2 linked regions of the Homo sapiens genome follow. The protein of the gene in region 2 purifies or fractionates together with the protein of the main gene of each other region. This does not show direct contact. Each region holds a gene or a part of one and is shown on either strand. Other genes may lie near its edges.

Region 1 (2,381 bases), on a different chromosome or scaffold from region 2:
CAGGAGAATTTTTTATAAGGAAGGGCAGGCAAGGACCACAAAGGCCAGCATGGAATAGTTACTAACAGCAGCCAGCTGTGGAGAAGGAAGGTGTTCCAGCCTTGTCTGTTTGATGGGGTGATTCCACTATCTGAGGATCTGCTTCTCTCCCTCTCCCAGCTGCCAACAACTGGGAGCCCATTCACTAGATCCATCCAGAGGGGTAGTTCTGGATGAAGAAGGGTCAGTGCAAGGTCCGAGGGTCTCAGAGGGTACGGAGGGAGGCAATGATAATTTCCTTTTAAAAGGCAGAAAAAAGTGTGTCTTCTCAAAATGCCAGGGGAGACTTTTTTTGCTTGGGTCTGGTATGTTTTCAATAATGCTATCAAATTAAAAAACAGTCGCCAGACCAGGGGAAAACGCTATGCAGTCTCCTAGAGAATGGTGTCATAATTTAAATTTGACCAGAGAATGAAGATCCAAAAGTGATTTCATTCAGAAGAAAAAATGCCTAAAAGGGGAAAGTAACTTTGAATTCTGAGAATTGACTCCTGCAAAAGGAGCAGGGTATAGCCGAAGATAGTCACAGGAACTATGATAAGAGCAGGCACATGTGAACATTTGTAGTAAACACACCCTGCATGTGGCAGGAGAAGCTGATGTGAACAAAATCAACTGCTCGAGGTTTTGCTTCATCAGTTTTATTGGTCATATATCCAGAATTCATCATATATAAATCTTTCAAAATAATGAGCTATTACAAGAATAGTTTACAAGTCAGCTCTGACTGCACAAATACTTGACACAGGAAACCATTTTTACAAATACATATGTTTTCTTATAATACTGTAATAAAGAAAATAAGTCTGTATACATCCTACGACAAATTTTGTAGTCTCTTTTTCCCATTCAATCATCGTTTCAGGTTTTCTATTACAGAACGTCCATCACATCCAATAAACCAAATTACAATCTGCTGCTTCTTCTCATTTTCAAATACTATAAAGATTCACACTGTTAAAGGGTTTTTTGGGTTCCTTTTCTAATCTTTCCTGATTTGAAAAGAATCCATGTATCTAGGCTAAAAGAGGTAACTTCAACAATATCCCTCTTGACTAGAACTTCTATCTGATTAATCATTGTTTGGTGAATTATCTTTTCACTTCCTACTTAGGCTAGGCCAGGTGGTAGTTTTACCCCTGCTGATAAAGTCCTGACATTCCTAATAGTTCCTAAACTGCAAATAAAAAACCCTAGAAACGAGTGAAATAGAAAAGAAAGCTAAACCACTATTGATTAGAGAACACACTCAAATTCAGGGTCTCTCCCAGGTTGAAGAAGACAGAAAAGCAATAAAGTATAAGGATGTGGCAGTAGTTGTATAAAATACTGAAAATCTGAAAGAGTCATCACTTAAGCCAGTAGTGTATCATTTCCAAAATGTCAGAGGATACAGAATCTTAGACTCTGTGGCTAGGCTGAACTCAGAATCTCAGACTCTGTGGCTAGGCTGACATTCTTATGCTGTGGCTTTGAAATAGCCTAATAAATATCCACTTGCCCAGAGCAAGTAATCATTTAGGCCAGGGGAACTTTACAGAATACTGACCATGTTTGCCTGAAGAGATAGGAACCACCAGGGCAAACATTTGGTATTCACTCCACTTCACTGTTACTGAAAAGCATCCACTTGGCAAAGCCTGTTGTTTTACTTTTCAGGTGATGTGAATTAAAATTAAGAAACTAGCAGTATTCTACTACAGTCAAGTTCCTGAGTACTCAGCTCCAATTATCTAATATTCTTGAAAGGATGCTGATATGGTTTGGTTGTGTCCCCCCACAAATCTCAACTTGAATTGTATCTCCCAGAATTCCCACGTGTTGTGGGACAGACCCAGGGGGAGGTAATTGAATCATGGGGGCCAGTCTTTCCCGTGCTATTCTCGTGACAGTGAATAAGTCTCATGAGATCTGATCAGTTTATCAGGGGTTTCTGCTTTTGCTTCTTCCTCATTTTTTCTTGCCACAATGTAAGAAGTGTCTTTTGCCTCCCACCATGATTCTGAGGCCTCCCCAGCCATGTGGAACTTTAAGTCCAATTAAACCACTTTTTCTTCCCAGTCTCGGGTATGTCTTTATCAGCAGCGTGAAAACGGACTAATACAGTAAATTGGTACCAGTAGATTGGGACCTGCTGAAGAAATACCCAAAATGTGGAAGTGACTTTGGAACTGGGTAACAGGCAGAGGCTGGAACAGTTTGGAGGGCTCAGAAGAAAACAGGAAAATGTGGGAAAGTTTGGAACTTCCTACAGACTTGTTGAATGGCTTTGCCCCAAATGCTGATAGCAATATGGACAACAAAGTCCAGGCTGAGGTGGCCTCAGATGAAGATGAGGAACT
Region 2 (2,951 bases):
GTTGTACAACTCAGTAAATTTACTAAAAACTGTTGAATTGTACCCTTAAAACAGGTGAATTTTATGATATGTAAGTTTTTCGTTTGTTTGTTTGTCTGTTTTTGAGATGGAGTCTTGCTCTGTTGCCCAGGCTGGAGTGCAGTGGCGTGATCTCAGCTCACTGCAACCTCTACCTCCTGGGTTCAAGCGATTCTCTTGCCTCAGCCTCCTGAGTAGCTGGGATTACAGGCATGAGCCAACACACCCAGCTAATTTTTGTATTTTTAGTAGAGACAGGGTTTCACCATGTTGGCCAGGCTGGTCTTGAACTCCTGACCTCAAGTGATCCACCTGCCTTGGCCTTCCAACGTGCTGTGATTACAGGTGTGAGCCACCATGCCTGCCCATGATATGTAAGTTATACTTCCATAACATTGCTTTAAAAAAAGCAAAAAATGGGCTCTTGTTTTATTTGGAAATCTTTAATTATAAACCTTTGATTCTTTTGGAATTGATTTCGGTATAAACAATGCAATACAGACCCCCTTTCATTTCAATATCCTGGCTGTTCTAAGCGGTAACCCACTGGAAAAAAGTCCATGGGAATAAAGACTTCTAATCTTATATTAGGGATCTGACACTCACCCGCTTCCTGCTAACCTCTAGCCCCTCCCCTTACCTCAATGGCTTGGTGGAGAGACTTGTCATATTTCTCAATGAATTCCCTCCGGATGTTGAGCAGGTCAATCTCACTGCGGGATACCATGATCCTGGTCAGAGTCTTCTCATCTGTGCCAGCACCCTGGTGGAGCCAGGCAGGAGGGAGACACAGGCGGAAGGAGAGATAGAGCCCAGTCAGGCAAGAAACAGTGGTATCCCATCTGCCTTTCTCCCTTGTTCCTTCCAAAAACAGGGCGGATGTTCCACCTCTGTCTTCTGCAAACAGTCCTGACCAAAATCCCTCTGTGCCCAGGACTGGCCAGACTGACACGCAAAAAAGATGTGTGTGGGTTGAATAGTGTCCCCATGTCCACCTGGAAACTCAGAACATGATGTAATTTGGAAATAAGGTATTTGCACATGTAATTAGTTAAGATGAAGGCATACTGAATTAGATTGAAGCCTAAACCAATAACCAATATCTTTAGAAGAGGGAGGGCACAGACATACACACAGAAAAGTGGCTAGGTGAGGACAGAGGCAGAGACCGGAGTGATGCATTCACAGCCAGGAAACACCAAGGACTTCTGGCAACCACCAGAAGCTAGGAGAGGCAGGGGAGTGCTTCTCCCCCAGAGCCTCCAGGAGGACCCAACCCAGGCGACACCTTGATTTTGGGCTTTTGGCCTCCAGAACTATGAGAATAAATTTCTTTTGTCACCCAATTTCTGGAATGTGTTACACCAGCCCTAGGAAACTACCACCGGGCCCAAGGAGCAGGCACAGGGCATGGAATGTGTGGGCAGCCAGAGCTGCCTCTGCCCCCAGGGAGCGACAAGCACCAGCCTAGGAGTCAGAGCTAGGTTCGAGTCCCAGCTCTGCCTCTTAGGAGCTATGTAAATGTGGGCAACGTTTTACCCTACCTAGGCCTGAGTTTCCTCCTCTATCAAATGAGGATGCTACCACAATTTCACAGGACTGCCATGAGGGTCAGCTGTGGTCAGAGAGATGAAGCCCTTGGCACAGGCTTGACACATCGTGAGTGCTCAATGAATGGCTGTCACATTTGGAGACTGTAGGGTGAGGGTCTCAGGTTCCTTCCTACCCTCCCACCTGCCCAGGCTATCTGCAGTTGAGACTCCAGTGGCTGAGAGGGTGGCCAGTGTGGCTTGGGCTCTCCCAGAAGGGCAGGACTAGACTCAGAGGGGAGCGCTTGTGACCTTTGATGACTATTTGTCCTAGGAGACCCTGTGTCCCCGGATAGATTGTGAGCTCTGAGAGGGCAGAGACTGTGTCCTACCCAGCCCTGTGTGCCTCCAGAGCACATTTCTCAACCTTGGCATTTGGGGCTGGATAATTCTTTGTTGCGCAAGCTTATCCTTTGCACTGAGGTTGTTTAACAGCATCCCTGTTCTGTCCCCACCAGATGCTGGTAGCAACAATCTCCAAGTTGTGATGACCAAAAATGTGTCTGGATATTGCCAAATATCCTCCGGGGCGGGGGAAGGCGGGGGAAATCACCCCCAACTGGGAAATACCATCCTAGAGCCAGACAAGGGCAGATGCTAATAAATGTCAAATGGGAAGAAACAGCTGCCAGGAATCCTGATCTGGGGGATGGTGCACATCTGTGTGTTTGTGTGTGTATGTAAGTCAGTGCTTGAAGGGAAAGGAACGCCAGCATGTTTTCTTACCTTCATGGATTTGTAAAGTTTGTCGGCAAAGAAGAGAGGCTTGTTCTTGACACTTTGAACTGGTAGGAAGAGCAGAGAGATGCGGGGAACGTGGTCAGAGGCTGTGAACCCAGACTCTGGACCGGCCTCCCCCATCTCCCCACCTCGTCTATCCCTGCATGGGTCTGCAGATCATTGTCAACCCCAGGGTCATGCTCAGACGACACCTTTGCTCCCCTTCCCCATGCTTCCTCCTCTGGCCCATCCTTAGGCCTGGCTCTCAATTGGTTGCAACTCTCTTCCTTCTAAGGTGCTTACAGCTAACCAAGGTCAGGAGAGGATTCAAAGGTAATTAACTCCTCATGAACCCAAGGCACGGGGCCTCAAATTTTTAAATGCATTGGAATCACCCAAAAAGCTTGTTTAAAACTCAGGGTTTAGGCTCCACCCTAAAGATTCAGATTTTGGAAAGATTTTGAGCAGTGGTTCTCAAAGTGTGGTTTCCGGACCAACAACATTAGCATCACTTGAAAACTTGGAAGAAAGGCAGATTCTCATGCCTCAGATTCCAGATTCCAGAGATGCTGAATCTGAAACTCTAGAGGTGAGTGACCAGCTTGTCCTAGTTTGCCTGGGACA

What was found.
Region 1: the proteins of ANXA6 (region 2) and MCFD2 fractionate together in Homo sapiens (co-fractionation; one large-scale study listed by BioGRID). This does not show direct contact.

What each region holds. Positions count from the first base shown.
Region 1 is NC_000002.12:46,901,210-46,903,590, forward strand, and holds the end of MCFD2 (multiple coagulation factor deficiency protein 2 isoform A precursor), read right to left. Parts: 3' UTR 665-2,381; downstream 1-664. UniProt on the Homo sapiens protein: The MCFD2-LMAN1 complex forms a specific cargo receptor for the ER-to-Golgi transport of selected proteins. Plays a role in the secretion of coagulation factors.
Region 2 is NC_000005.10:151,102,912-151,105,862, forward strand, and holds part of ANXA6 (annexin A6), read right to left. Parts: intron 2,393-2,951; coding exon 2,334-2,392; intron 782-2,333; coding exon 659-781; intron 1-658. UniProt on the Homo sapiens protein: May associate with CD21. May regulate the release of Ca(2+) from intracellular stores.